Regions from separate parts of the Homo sapiens genome. Here region 1 is linked to region 2. A link means that fine-mapping ties the variant in region 2 to the expression of a gene that starts in the linked region. Tissue or cell type: fetal neocortex. Region 2 holds a variant in brackets; the other region holds the start of a gene. All regions are shown on one strand. Distances are between the middles of the regions.

The links. PIP is the estimated chance that this variant, and not a neighbour inherited with it, causes the effect.
Region 1: MCPH1-AS1 starts here. The variant in region 2 is fine-mapped to the expression of MCPH1-AS1 in fetal neocortex (Walker 2019, PIP 0.95).

What each region holds. Positions count from the first base shown.
Region 1 is chr8:6,704,750-6,712,863 of GRCh38, forward strand. MCPH1-AS1 (MCPH1 antisense RNA 1) reads right to left here and starts at 3,460. Exons shown (of 5, transcript NR_125386.1): 1 at 3,392-3,460. It overlaps AGPAT5 (1-acylglycerol-3-phosphate O-acyltransferase 5), which reads left to right and starts at 3,893. Exons shown (of 8, transcript NM_018361.5): 1 at 3,893-4,138. The coding sequence starts at 3,920. RefSeq lists silencers at 3,647-3,986, 4,047-4,286.
Region 2 is chr8:6,633,446-6,641,445 of GRCh38, forward strand. The region is part of intron 13 of MCPH1 (microcephalin 1); the gene reads left to right. The region is part of intron 1 of MCPH1-AS1 (MCPH1 antisense RNA 1); the gene reads right to left. Among named protein-coding and RNA genes, the nearest start is that of MIR8055, 15 kb to the left of the region's middle. The variant G/A (reference allele first, on the strand shown) is at 4,350.

The DNA.
Region 1 (8,114 bases), 71 kb after region 2:
GAGGGATTCGTTTTTCTCTCCATACATGGTCACCACCAAAGGCTAAGCTACCATCATCCTTTCTAGCTGGGAGTCTAGCTATAGTCTCCAAACTGTTTAAAATATACTCTCCACAATGCCTGAACAACTTTTAAAAAGATCAAATATAAGCATGTCACTCCTCTCCTTAAAATCTCAGTAGCTTCCCTGTCCTTTGGGATAAATTCTAAAATCCTTATGTGTCCCCCAAGACCCTGCTGTCATCTGGTTCTTGCCTATCTTTCCAGACTCAATCCCTAGCATCCTTGTCTCCTTTCCTTACCCCAATTATTTCTGTAAAAACAATCTTCAAATGGAGGCATGCGTATCCCTGAGAATATGGACACGTGGTCATGAGGAGTTTCAAGGGATTCAGTTTTCAGATCCCAACTCTTCTAAAAGTGATCTGTCTGAGGACTCCTGCAGTCCAGGCCCACCTGGCATTTCATAATGGCTCCTCTCCCCCCTGGCACATCCTAAATCTTACTACATTGTGCTGCCCTGCTGAGGTAGAAAGGTGTAATAAACCTTAGGACACCAACAGAGATAACTTATTTAAGAGATGCATTTCTTGTAACTTTTTTTTTTTTTTGCCTACAATTCCTTATCAGATTTTGTGAAACACATTGATTAAACTGTGTATTGCTAATAATAGTAACAGTTCAATCCAGAAGAAAATTTGCTTCTTAGGACCCTAATGATACAGTCTGATCAGTAAAAAACTTTGAAGGATAGAGCATATTCAATTATGATAGAATCCTGTGGTAGAAGTGAAATAAAAATATTTTCAGGGAGAAAAATAATCAATGCAAAATTTTCAACTGGTCAAAGGCTTAAGTATTTTTGAAATGAATGATGGGGTGGATATTAAGTCACTATAATATTTATAACTCACTGCATACATTTAAAAATTTTCTGTAATCACTTTATTTTCAAAACATCATTCATAACTCATCAGAACTTCATAACTACTTAAATTTATAATTAAAAGCCTTTTTAAATTTATCATTAAAAGCCCCCCTCTCCCCACCTTTTTTTTTCTTTGAGATGGACTCTTTCTCTTTTGCCCAGGCTGGATTGCAGTGACGCGATCATGGCTCATAGCAGCTTTGAACTCCTGGGCTCAAGCAATCCTCCCAACTCAGCCTCCTGAGTAGCTGGGGCTACAGGCATGCACAATCACACCCAGCTAATTAAAAAAATATATTTGTAGAGATGGAGGCCTCACTCTACAAAGCGCTTAAGTGATCCTTCCTCCTTGGCCTCCTGAAGTGCTGGAATTACAGGTATAGGCCACCATGCCCAGCTGAGAAAAACATTTAAATATCAGTTTAAGAATGTGTGATGGGAATACACAGCATTCTTTCAAGGGGCATCTCAACAAATTTTAAAAAGAACACTGTGGCCCACTCCAGTGCTATGCATGAGAATATGGTGATTTCTCAGCTTCAGGCGTTCAAATGTGCCATTCTCCCATGGAAAGCCCACTAAGTCCCTCAAGCTTCACCTGAAATACCATTTCACTGAGAAGTCTTCCTTGTCTCCAGACTAAATTAGATTGCCTTGATATATGCTCCCAGAGAACCAAGAATGTCCCCTTTTCATCCCACAGGTAACTCCTTGTTAAATGTTGTACAAGGAAGGCATAGACAGAATTCACCTTTCACTGTTCCACTGGTGCCCAGCAGGGTATGCAAAGGAGGAAATCAGCTGTGCTCTGAAAGAAGCACCATTCCAGTAAAGGGGAGGAAAAGGTCATCAGACTGCAAGGGCTCAACAAAAGTACAAGGTAAGGAGGCAGAGGGTGTGGGCTGATTATCAACTAAGAGGTTTGCACGGAAAAAGGGAAAAAAAAAAAAACAGAAAAACAGGGCCGGGTAGTGGCAGAAAGAGAGGGTGGATCTGTGACTGTTCGCAGGAAGAGAGGAGCGGGAGCAGGACAGACAATAACTGATAGTCAGGAGCTGGGTTTGGAGATAAAGAGGGAACAAGAGAAAGTTAAGTTCTGTGTTTTCATGGCAAACATTGCACAAAAGTTTACAACTTCGTGACTAACAGTAATCTGGGGTGATTCACAACAAATTTACACATAAACACATATTTACTGACTTTATACACAGCAATCCTAACGTGAACACAGAACCTGCTTTATCTTTTCGCACACTGTTCTAGTGTAGAGATGTCTGGTCTCAGTTAAAGAAAGCATAAGGAGCATTAGTTGTGCACACTGTCCACACCTGTGACTTTTTTCCACCAGTACTAAACCTAGTGCTTCTTACAGTACAGGACAATGACAGCCACAGAAAGAGAGAAGCTCCTTTTACTGTGTAATGCTTCCTGCTGGCCTTCAAATACTTGTTACTTGAGAGATCTCCATTCACCTGGCTTTGTCCCCAAAGGTCATCATCTACCAATGATGTTGTTATTTGATGTTAATCATGTATAAAGAAAGTAGCTACCATCCTGGCCCTGATTAGAACTTCCCACTGAAATACCGTCCTGCCTAAAGGTAGCACAGGCTCCCATTATGGTGGTGGTGGGGAGGGGGCGGGAATATATATATATATATATATATATATATATATATATATATGGTAAAGCATTCGGCATTCTTTTAAAGTACAACTATCCTTGAAAAGGGTTACATATTAAACCATTTTTACCACAGCCAAAGGGGAGGAGAAAGATCCAAAAGTCCTGTGGATCTGCTTTAACATCAATAAAACAGTTATCCACCCTTCGTAGCTTTTAGTGAAGGCTACAAAAGTATGCTTTTTATGGATTACACATGTGCACGCAACTACTTTAATTACTACAGAAAAAAACGAGGCTCCTTATTAAAAAAAAATCAGAAACAAGTCCAACAGACTCTGAGGAAATGAAGCAAGAGTGAATTCTGAAAAGGTCTAATAAACAGTATGGAAATATCCTTGTGGGATTGTTCTTCAGCTATGCATAAACATGTAATTATCATCATTACTGTGATGGGGAAAAACACGGACCCTAATTCTGAAACACCCTGGTAGCGAGAGACGGGCAGGAGGGGCTGCTGCGCACTCAGAGCGGAGGCTGAGGAGGCGGCGTCCCCTTGCAAAGGACTGGCAGTGAGCAGATGGGGACACTCGAGCTGCCCCGCGACCTGGGCCGAGCTGCCTACAACCTGGGCCCAGGTGCCTGCAAGAATTAGACCTCCGATAACGTTAACACCCACTTTCTCACTGCTCTAATTGTGTGCATCCCGGCGCCCAGGGGCTTGTGAGCAGCAGGTGCGCGTTCCAGGCAGCTCCAGCGACCCTTAAACCTGACCGCGCGCACGTCCGGCCCGAGGGAGCAGAACAAGAGGCACCCGGACCCTCCTCCGGCCAGCACCCACCTTCACCCAGTTCCGTCAGTCGCCACCACCTCCCTTCCCGCGTCCGCAGCCGGCCCAGCTGGGGAGCATGCGCAGTGGCCGGAGCCGGGTTGCCCGCGCCCCAGCAGGTAGCTGTACTGCAACTGTCGGCCCAAACCAACCAATCAAGAGACGTGTTATTGCCGCCGAGGTGGAACTATGGCAACGGGCGACCAATCAGAAGGCGCGTTGTTGCCGCGGAGCCCCCTGCCCCGGCAGGGGGATGTGGCGATGGGTGAGGGTCATGGGGTGTGAGCATCCCTGAGCCATCGATCCGGGAGGGCCGCGGGTTCCCTTGCTTTGCCGCCGGGAGCGGCGCACGCAGCCCCGCACTCGCCTACCCGGCCCCGGGCGGCGGCGCGGCCCATGCGGCTGGGGGCGGAGGCTGGGAGCGGGTGGCGGGCGCGGCGGCCCGGGCCCGGGCGGTGATTGGCCGCCTGCTGGCCGCGACTGAGGCCCGGGAGGCGGGCGGGGAGCGCAGGCGGAGCTCGCTGCCGCCGAGCTGAGAAGATGCTGCTGTCCCTGGTGCTCCACACGTACTCCATGCGCTACCTGCTGCCCAGCGTCGTGCTCCTGGGCACGGCGCCCACCTACGTGTTGGCCTGGGGGGTCTGGCGGCTGCTCTCCGCCTTCCTGCCCGCCCGCTTCTACCAAGCGCTGGACGACCGGCTCTACTGCGTCTACCAGAGCATGGTGCTCTTCTTCTTCGAGAATTACACCGGGGTCCAGGTGAGCCGCCTCCCGCTCCCGGGTCTCGGCGTCCACCCGAGCTCCCGGGGGCGCGGACCTCTCCGCTCCCCCACAGCTGGCGAGGGTCACCCGGCCGGCCCGGCGGACCCAGCACGGAGAGCACGTGCCGCCTCCCCGCCTTCCTCTCCGCATGCTTCCTGCCGTTCTGCCGAGATCGCTCTCTAGGAAGCTGTGGCTGCGTCGTCCTGAGGCTACGAGTGGGACCCGCCGCCCCTTTCCCCGCCCCTCGCCTGGGTCTGATGCTGCTTAGCAAAGTGGGTGCAGATGCACGTTTTAAATAATAGGGCACGCGTTTAGCAGTTTCTGGCCTTTGGTCCAAAGAGGTGGTCATGTTGGAACAGATCGGAGACGTCTACACTCCGAAGTGCGCTTTTACAGTGACCTCTTGAAACAGAAGTACAATTCGGTCTTGTGTTCTTTCCCCTGGACAAGTGAAAGCTGGGCGAAGAAATGAATACATTTGTTAACCGTAGAAGCCTAACTAGATACATTTCTTGCCAACTTTAACTGGGCTTGAATGTGTGGGTGATCTGTTGTCTGATTACTTTCTTTCTGTTACTGTTTCTCTGTAGAGATTGGATTCGTAGATTAAACTTGAGAAACAAACCATAAAAGTGGAAGGCCCTCTTTAACAGTAGGTATTTGAAGTGTTATAAAAAAAAAAAAAAGGTGAATTTTTCTTTTATTTCTCAGTTTGAAAGAACAGCTTTATTCTTGGTTATTCCTAATGTCCACCTAGTCCTCTTTTACTTTTCTTGGTAGGGTTAGGGTGGCATGGGGAAATGGGACGGTATCATTTTGTCTTTTTAACTTTTTTTTTTTCCACCTACAGCAGCTGTTTTTACCCTGTGGTCAGTCAGGTACTATATTTAGTTTGCAGTTGCACTGCTGATCGACCCTTGATGGCCCCAGTTGGAAGTTGTTTGGGGGGAAGGAACTAGGAGAGGCCAGGGCCTCCATTTAAACCAGTGTCTGTAAGTGTCTCCTTGGAAAGAAAAAAAGATACTGTTCCAGGTCATGGTTTCCTGGTAGTTGACGTTTAAAATGGGCCTCATTTAAAAATTTCAATAATTCAGGCTAATTTTTTCCCTTTATATGGTAACTCCACCAAGTTTGTCTAAATGTATGATTTTTATCATGATTAAGTTTTTACTTCCACATCATGTGACAACTGGCCTGGGATGGGATATAAGCTCAGAACACAAAGTCATTCACCTCTTAAAAAAATAATTCTATCTGTGGCGGGTTATGTTATTTTTGTTCAAAGAGGACACAATATGATGCAGAATACACCATTGAAGGATTTTTTGGTTTGGCAAGTTCTTATTTTTTTAAATGGCTGTAAAACCTAGCAGTGTTTCTGAAATTGCATACCTTACCTGATGTTCAGAGATCCGATTTACTTCTTGATTTCCCAGCAAGTGATTTTGAAAACATTTAATCTAATCATTCCCCCCACCGTCTGTTCAAATCAAAGGAAGTGGCATCCAGCACTAATTTTCATGCATTTATGAAAGGATGCCTGAGGACCCTTAAGTATAATTCAAAATTTTGTTTAATGTGTGTTCCTTGATGAAGTTCTTTAGGAGTCGTAGAACGAACTGATTGCCCACTGATCATCAAATGCAAGTTATGAACATTTAATAAAAATTTAAAACCAAGAGTTTCTTGTTCCTGCATTTTTATTTTTATTGTATGGAGGGGACAAATAATTATTTTCTGTTTAGTAACAGAGCAGGGTATTTTGAATTTATTAGGGTCTTTTTCTGCAATCTGGGTTTCCTGTGTACACAAAGCTACCTTTCAATATTTTTTATTGTTTCTGTTAAGATTAAATCAATAGAGGAATAAATAGCTATCTTCAAACATAAGACCCAAAGGAAAAAGATTTATAGTGATGTTCTGTCACCTTATTTTTTACCTGTGACTTTGTACCATTAACTTTGTCACTGAGATGTTTTGATTAAAATTTTTAGCTTGCTTTTCTTGTTTTGTTAGGACACTCTTTTTTTCTTGAATTGTTTTTATCAGCTTTCGTTTGCAAGGCTAGTGATGATTCTCTTGTTCTGTATAAAGTATTGTTGACTCATTTCTGAAGGGAGTTTTAGTAATTTAAGAGGTTATAAGTTTTTAAATAAAAGGTTTATTAATTTATATATATTAAAGAGGCATTTTAAAATAAAATTTTTTTTAAATGACATTTTTACACCTTTCAACTCTAGGTTTAAAAAATAAGTGGTTCACAGTAGTTCTTGCAGAAGAATATTTTCTTTTACATAGAATTTTTAAGCTGAAGAGAAGTAGTAGTAGGTCCATGAGATTTATGATCTGTGCTTGGCAGGTAAACCTGCTTCCAACAAATTTAGTTGGATTTTTCTTGGATTCTGGGTAAATACCTTTTTCTTCCCCAATTTCACTACTTTATTTTCATATGTATCTCTGAGATAGAGAAATATTTCAGTCAGTGCTGCTAAAATTGTTCCTTATAACTCGTTTATCCTTTTAGGTCCTTCCAGAATCTCTCATTGGTACTGAAACTCAAATGGGTACTTTCTTCACCATTTATTTCTTTAGAATAAGTAATAAGAATTTTATAAGCTTTTTTATATTTCACGTAATTTGAGACTATTGAAAATCCAGTTAAGTCTCTCTACTGTGTTGAGAGGCATTGATTCAAGTACCTGTGTTACTTTCCTGTGCTGCCAAAACAGATCACCTCAAACTAAGCGGCTTAAAATAATAGAACTTAAGTTCTCGTGATTCTGGAGGCCAGCACTTTGAAATCAAGGTGTAGGCTCAATTTTACTCCCTCTGGAGGCCCTAGGGGGAATCCGTTCTTGTGGGTTTCAACTTCTGGTGACTGGTGGCATTCCTTGGCTTGGGGCCCCATCACTTTAACCTCTGCCTTACAGTCCTTGCTGCCACCTCTTCTGTCTCACATCTCACTCTCCCTTTCTCTTAGAAGGATGCTTGTCATTGGGTTTAGAGCCCACCTGGATATTCCGGGATGATCTCTTCATCTCAAGATCCTTAATTATAACTGCAAAGAGCCTTTTTCCAAATAAGAAAACATTCACAGGTTCCAGGGCTTAGGATGTGGACACATTTTTTGAGGGGCTGCCCTTCATTCCCCCACAACAATGAACTCCATAGTTCTGCCTATTCAGTATTTTGTAGTTATTTCGTAGTTTAACTTGCCTTATTTCTTTAGGTATTTACGTATTAAAGCATTTTGGTCTCTGCTTTCTTTAACAGAGAACCTGGTTTTCTGTAATAAGTTTACTTACTTTCCCATAATCTTTTAGTTTCTTATTTACAGATTTACCTTCACATATCCCTTAAGTAGAACATTTGATTAACTGTTTTATTTTCGGAACAAATCTGCATTCTGTATAATAACCAACTTATTCATATTTCGGTATTCTTTTAATTCTTATCTGATTCTGAAATTACCATCTTGTGATTATATATATATATATATGGAAATAACTGAAATCCTGATAAATTAAAGGTGATATAACTTCTAAGACAATTAATTATGTATGATGTGGTGAATATACTGGTGTTTGGTTTGTTTGCCACTTAAAAGCCCTATCTATAGGATAGGAAGTAACTTGAATGTGGAATGCTTAGAGACTCAGAGTAAGAGGCCGTATATATATCCTTGAGCTGGAGTTTAAGGAAAACTTATGGGAAATTAAAAGGAAAGTTGGAGTACTGACAGAGGATTGGGTAGGACTCATGAAAAAGGAATGAAGTTACCTTAAATTCTATCATCGTGAGTTAACGTGAAACTAGATTTATGTTAGTTTATAGCCTAGAATTCTATCCTAGGAATCTAGATATATCCTAAATGTTGAGATAGCTGCATAAACAATAACTGTAATCGTTATGATAAATAATGACAAATCTTTTTAGCATGTTCTGTGAAGCTGATAAATGTTAATAGGATGTC
Region 2 (8,000 bases):
TAATACAGGTTGAACATTCCTAATTTTAATCTGAAATGCTCCGATATCTTAAACTTTTTGAGTGCCAATCTGTCAACACAAGTGGAAAATTCCACACCTGACCTCATGTGACAGGGCATAGTCAAAGCACAGGTGCACGACACAGTTGATTTAGCGTCCCCAAGGGAAAAAAAAGACCCACCCAGCCCCCTTCAACTATAGTATAACTTTTCCATGCACACCCAAATTCCCCCACACAAGCACGCCCACAATGTGTAATAAAATGGCACGTGTGCAGGCTGGACGCACCCAACGCAGATTCCCCACGATACCTCACGTGGGGCCGAGAACTCCATGCATTACTCACTGTGGTTTTTTGCTTATTCTCTGCAGTGTCATGTAAAAATATTACTGAAAATGTCGAAAAGGCCTGCAGATCCCCCTATGTGTAACAGTGATCAGAAAAAGAGGAATAATTTATGTTTATCAATAGCACAAACAGTCAACTTGTTGGAGGAACTGAACAGCAGTATAAGTGTGAAGCGTCTTACAGAAGAGTATGGTGTTGGGATGACCACCATACATGACCTGAAGAAACAGAAGGATACGCTTTTGAAGTTCTATGCTGAATGTGATGAGCAGAAGTTAATGAAAAATAGAAAAACTCTACGTAAAGCTAAAAATGAAGATGTGAATAGTGTATTGAAAAACTAGATCTGAAGGCATCACACTGAACCCGTGCCACTCAGTGGTAGGCTGATCATGAAACAAGCGAAGATCTATCCTGATGAACTGAAAATTGAAGGGAACTGTGAATATTCAACAGGCTGGTTGCAGAAATTTAAGAAATGACATGGAATTCAAGTTTTAAAGCATCTGCAGATCACAAGGCAGCGTCGAAACTCATTGACGAGTTTGCCAAGATTATCGCTAATGAAAATCTGATGCCAGAACAAGTCTGTATTGCTGATGAGACATGACCATTTGGGTGCTACTGCCCCAGAAAGATGCTGACTACAGCTGACGGGACAGCCCCTACAGGAATTAAGGATGCCAAGGACAGAATGACTGTGCAGTGCTGTGCAAATGCAGCAGGCACGCATAAGTGTAAACCTGCTCTCATGGGCAAAAGCTTTTGTCCGTGCTGTTTTCAAAGAGTAAATTTCTTACCAGTCCATTATTATGCTAACAAAAAGGCATAGATCACCAGGGACATCTTTTCTGATCGGTTTTACAAACACTTCGTACAGGCCTCTTGTGCTCGCTGCAGAAAAGTTGGACCGGATGATGACAGCAAGATTTTCTTATGCCTTGACTACTGTTCTGCTCATCCTCCAGCTGAAATTCTCATCAAAGATAATATTGATGCTGTGTACTTTCCCCCAAACGTGACTTCATTAGTTGAGCCTGTAACCAGGGTATCTTTAGATCAATGAAAAGTAAATATAAAAACACTGTCTTGAATTGCACGCTCGCAGCAGTGAACGGAGGTGTAGGTGTAGAAGATTTTCAGGAGCTGAGCATGAAGGATGCCATACATGCTGTTGCCAACGCTTGCAACACAGTGACTAAAGACACAGATGTGCGTGCCTGGCGTGACCTCTGGCCTACGACTGTGTTCAGTGATGATGATGAACCAGGTGGTGGTTTAGAAGAATTCAGCTTGTCAAGTGAGAAGAAAAGGATGTCTGACCTCCAAAAAATATACCTTCAGAGTTCATCAGTCAGCGGGAAGAAGTACACATTAATGTCATTTTTAACATTGATAATGAGGCTCCGGTTGTTCATTTCATTGACTGTTGGGGAAATAGCCAGAATGGTTCTGAATCAAGGTGATCGTGATGATACCGACCATGAAGATGACGTTAACACTGCAGAAAAAGCACCCGTGGACAGCGTGGAGCTCAGGTGTGATGGGTTAACTGAGGCCCAGAGCAGCGTGCATTCACAACAGAACAAGCAATCATGTCAGCTTATAAAATCAAAGAAAGAATCCTAAGACAAAAAAGAAAGAAAAAAAATTAGCCGGGCATGGTGACACGTGACTATAGTCCCAGCTGTGTGGGAGGCTGAGGTAAGAGTCTTGCCTGAGCCCAGGAGTTAGAGGCTGCAGTGAGCCGTGATCATGCCACTGCACACCAGCCTGGGAAACAGCGAGGCCCTGTCTCAAAAAAACCCAAAAAACTAAGTAAATATTTTGTACATGAAACAAACTTTGTGTACACTGAACCAACAGAAAGGAGCTGTCGGTTCTAAGACCATTGTTAGTGGTGCAGATACCATTAAAAAGCCCCCCAGCAGAATGCCTCCTCGTCCCCAGAGGACCCACTTCCTGGGCCTGTAACTGCTTCTTATGTTCCTTCTCACCTAAAATGTAAAATGCCGTGTCCCGTAAGCTTTGAATCAAAGCACAGCATGGTTGGGAGAGCAGAGGCCTGCTGTTGTTTGTTGTTGCTGCTGTTGTTCAGCAGCTGATTGCGGTCTCTGCTGATGCCACTGGCTGCTTAGCTCCCCTGAGCACGTAAGTCTTCACTGTGTTAATGGCATGTCTTATTTTTTACTGTGAAGTACTTATGTGTGAATAAGTGTAAGGAAATGACTGCTTGGTAGTAGCATATAAATTCAGAGTCACGGGCAGGCACGGTGGCTCACGCCTGTAATCCCAGCACTTTGGGAGGCCAAGGCGGGCAGATCACTTGAGGCCAGGAGTTCAACACCAGCCTGGCCAACATGGCAAAACCCCATCTCTACTAAAAATTACAAAAATTAGCCGGGCGTGATGGCACATGCATGTAGTCCCAGCTACTTGGGAGGCTGAGGCAGGGGAATCGCTTGAGCCTGGGAGGTAGAGATTGCAGTGAGCCAAGATTTCACCACTGCACTCCAGCCTGTGTGACAGAGAGACTGTCTCAAAAAAAAAAAAAAAAAAGTCACAGTCAGGAATGAGGGTGATGCCACACAACCACTGATTGTCCACATGGGGGTGAGGGCTGAGATAGTGATACCTCTGCTTTCTGATGGTTCCATGTACACAGACTTTGTTTCATGCACAAAATTTGTTTGTTTATTTTTTGAAACAGAGTTTGGCTCTGTTGCCCAGGCTGGTGTACAGTGCTGCGATCATAGCTCATTGCAGCCTCTAACTCCTGGCCTCAAGCGATCTTCCCACCTCAGCCTCCGTTGTAGCTGGGACTACAGTCATGCTGTCGCACCTGGCAATCACACCAGTCTATGCACAGAACTATTTAAAATACTGTATAAAATTACCTCTAGGCTATGTGTATAAGATGCAGATGAAACATAAATGAATTTTGGTTTTAGACTCTGGTCCTATCTTCAAGATCTCTCATTGTCCATTCCAAAAATGCCACCCACCACCCCCCAAAAAAAATCTGGAATTCAAAACATTTCTGGTCTCCAGCATTTTGGATAAGGGAAACACCACCTGTAATATCCTTTTACACATTTCCTGGATGGGAAACAGAAGTTGGTGTGGTAGGAGTCACACATAAACGGCAGACTTTCTTGTCTGTGACACATTCTTAGGATGTCCTAGAGAAGTATCAGCGATGTGAATGTCTCCAGTCAAATATCAGAGCAGAAAGAATATGTTGAGAACTGCTGTATTATTAGACTGGGCTACTTTCTTCAAACAACACATGGTATCAGGTCATTCATTCATTTACCCAGTAGATATTTCCTACACACTCGTCATATGCCGAGCATATCCTAGGCACTGCAGGTACAGCAACTGACAGGAATATACAGCCTTTGCCCTTGTGGGACTTAACATTTAAGAGAGAAGACAGGCAGCAAACAATTTCTTTAAAAATCCTTCTGGTGGTAAATGCAATGAAGAAAACAGGGTGAGTATAGAGAGGAGGAGTGAGGTAGGCCCCTTGCAGGTGAGTGGCATTTGAGCTGAGGCCCAGATGATGAAGAGAAGGATGGACTCTTGTAGGTCTATTGGACTGGCCCTTCCAGGAATGGTAAGGGCTGAGAGGTCAGGAGAAGCGGTAAGTTTAGCGTGGCTGAAATGAAGGGAGAGAAGACAAAGCAATAGGAAATGAAGCTGGAGAAGCAGGCAGCTTCAGACAGGACCATTCCAGACCACTGACACCTTAACAGACAACAGCAAGAAGTTTGGGTTCTGTTCTAAGGATAAATGGAAGTCACAGAACGATTTTAAGTGGGAGGATTAGGCTGCGGTATATGTTTGTTTACTCTGTTTGTGTTTATTTTTGTTTTAATGGATACAGAGTCTCCCAATGTTGCCCAGGCTGGTTTTGAACTCCTGGGCTCAACGGATCCTCCTAACTCGGCCTCTCAAAGTGCTGACACATGTTTTTTTAATGGAAGCAGAGAAAGCA[G/A]TCTCGGACCTTTGCAGTGGTTCAGGTGATTAGTGATGGGGGTTAGGACCAGGGACGTATCGATGGAGGTGTTGTGAAGTTGTCATATTTTAAATATACATTTCAGAGCCAGGTGCACTCGCTGATACATTGGATGTGGCATATTAGAGAAAGAAGACTCGAAGGTGGCACCTAGTCTTGTGTTCTGAGCTTCCAGAATGAGGCATCTAGAAGCCAGGACCCGGGAGAAGCACGGAAGGAGCAGTGGTTTATTCAGTCTGCAGAAGCAGTGCCTACAGGACTGCTGTGTGAAAGAGGACACATGTGATATGAGCAGATGAAAATCACACAGCAGGCAGCTCTGGGCTCATTATGAGAAACGACTCTAGGAATATTTGTAACCTGCTGGGCTCTACTGCTAAGGGCTGCCTTAAGCCATGAAGCCGCAGAGGCTGGGTGACCACCGTCCCACAGTGAGGGAGCTGGGCAATTCCTTACCAGAGTGGAGATGTGGCTAGATCTCCTAGCCCTAACATGCTTACTTATTTTGATAAGCAAAGATGAAGCTCACATGGGTCCCGTGTGCTCTTGAACTTCTGTACATTGTACCATTAACCACACTTGGATGCTGGCAATCGCAGTTTTAGTTAAATAAAGTGACTTGCCCACCATACTATAAAAAATTAATTTTGGTAGCATGTTGATTCTGTATCCTAACCATAAGACCACACAGAGCCATGGCTAGTAAACTTTAGCTTGTGCGTAAATGCCTGCCAAGACCTGCTAAATACTGTTGCTTACATTTAAAAAAAAAAAAAAAAATTTTTTTTTTAATTTAAATTTCACGGAGCTGCTCAAGGGCAGTTCAGCTTCCTATTCATCTCTGTCTCCACCGGCCAGGACTGGCATTACTCTAACATCTGTCCTACGGCCACATTTTATGGGATGTTTGAGGATTATTCCTATGAAGTGACATTGGAATTTGGGGATGTGGCTATGTTCAGATGCCAAATAAACTTGGATAGAAATCATTTTTCCTGTGTGTGTTTACAGTTAGGAACGTGGGGCTGTGAGGGGCTCCCTGGACATGACCCTGGAGCTGTCGGCCCTTGTTCAGTGGTCAGATGCGCTTCAGACCTCCCAGAGTGCTGCCCGCACACTCAGTCACAGCCCCATGCGCACCTCAACGCCACTGCTCAGAAGTCCAGTGTAATTCCTCAGGCAGCATGTCCTAGAGCAGGCCATGAGAGGTGTAAGGTACAGACTTTGTTGTGAGGTTACATGTAGGCTTCTGTTCCATCTTGTCTCTGTTTAAAGATCGATACTTCTGGCAGCCTTTATCCCCACCACGATAAATACGTGGATGGAAGGATACATGCGTGGAAGGGTGGATGGGTGGATGGTTGGATGGATGGGTAGACGGGTGCATGGGTAGATGGGTAGATGGGTGGATGGAGTGATATTTGATTTCATAGTCAAAGAACTCAAACAGTAGACAAGTACACAGGGTCCTCCAGTCTTACAACCCTTCCTTAACTACAATAAAGATAGAAGTGTATCTTCTAGATTTCTTTTAAAAACATATTTATGAATGTAAACATATTATGGTCAGGTCCAGTGACTCACATGTATAATCTAACACTTTGGGAAGCCAAGGTGAGTGGACTGCTTGATGCCGGGAGTTTGAGACCAGCCTTGGCAACATAGAAAGACCGTGTCCCTACAAAAAAAATTTTAAAAGTAGCCTGGTGTCATGGCACATGCCTGTAGTCCTAGCTACTCAGGACGTCAAGGTGGGAGGATCACTCGAGGACAGGAATTCCAGGCTGCAGTAAGCCATGATCATACCACTGCACTCCAGTCTGGGCAATGGATCAAGATCCTGTCTCTTTAAAAAAAAAAAAAAACATATTTACATAGAAATAAATGTATATAAACACAGATATTGTTTAGGGATTTGTTTTTATATATATTGGAGAATGACATGCTTTTTCAGGAGCTTTTATTTAACCCTATGCCTAGAAGATCCTTCCAGCTTAACACATATACAGCTACTTCATTCTTTTTAACCATTGGGAGGTACTGTAATTAATTTATGTGCTTTCTGTTATTTTCATTGTTTTGCTATTGTATTTACTTATTTATTTTAGAAACAAGATGTCACTATGTTGCCCAGGCTGGCCTCAAACTCTTGGGCTCAAGCAGTCCTCCCACCTTAGCCTCCCAAGTAGGCGGGACTACAGGCATGAACCCTGCAATACGGCTGGCTTCTGCTATTTTAAACTCGTGTGTGTGTGTGTGTGTGTGTGTGTGTGTGTGTGTGTGCGCGCGCGTGTGTGTGTGTGTGCGTGTGTGTGTGTGTTTTCTAACTGAACAATCTGAATTCAATTTTAAGAGATTTTCTTGAGCTGGAATTATTCTAGTCCGAGCCCAGGCTCATGAAGATTTCTGTAAAATACATTCCAAGCAGTGAAATTACTGTGCCCTAGGATATGTGTACTTAAATTCTGATACACAAGGCTGCAGCAATTTACACTATTACTAACGGTACATAAAGTCCTATTTCCTATGTCCTATAAATTCCCATGTCCAGTACTGGACATAACCCATATTTTCAATATTGGGTGATCCGATTAGTTAAAAAAATAGATCTCATTAATTTCTAATTGCCTGATTACTAAATTATGAATGAGTCTGAATATCTTAGATAGGAGATTTATCATTCGTGAATTACCTGTCCTGATCCCTTAACTGTTTTGAAATTGGGTTATTTATATTTTTCACATGGTTTTACAGCAATGTTTACATAATATGGACATTAAACTTTTGTTGTGTTATAAAACTCTGTCTCTTTAGCTGTGCTTATGGTGTCTTAAGTATTACCAAGTTTTTAATTTTTAACTATTATTTTTTACAAAATTAAACACCTCTTTTCCTCCATGGCACCTACCCTTGTGGTTTTGCTTAGAAAGGCCTTCCTCACCCTCTGAGCTTTAAAAATAATCTCATATTCTCCTATTTATAGTTTTAAAAAATATTTAGACCTTTAATGCATGTGCATTTCACTTACTGTATAATGTGAGGGGACCATGTTGTTTTTAATAACTAATTTATTGACACTGACCTATATTGCCCCCTGTGAGTCATCTCTTACATTCCCACATGGTATGGGTGTGTTTCTGGTTATTCTCGTCCATTGATCTGTTTGTCTATTCTGTGCTGACCTCTATTTTACTGCTATAATTGTACAGACTGTTTTGATATCTGGTATGTCAAATTTTTTCTCATCATTTCTCTTTTTAAAAATCATCTTCCTATGCATTTTTTTCTTTCCTATAAACTTTAGAATAAACATGTCGTTTTCTTTTTGAAAAGTTTGAAATTTTTGGATTACATTGAATTTCTAGATGAATTTGGAAAGAGCATCATTTTTTCTGCATTTTTTTATGATTTTTCAAAACTGACACCTAGTCAGAAAACTAAGTGTAAAAATTGAATCCATAGAGTTTTTACAACCTGGAAGAAAATACAAATGTGGCTGAATGACTTTAAACCCTGAGTATCGGAAAAGGCTTCCACCTACCTATGACTCAAAAGCCAGATGCAATAAGACAAAGTGTTGATATAATTTGAATACATAAGAAATTGAAACTTATACATGGCAAAAGTTTG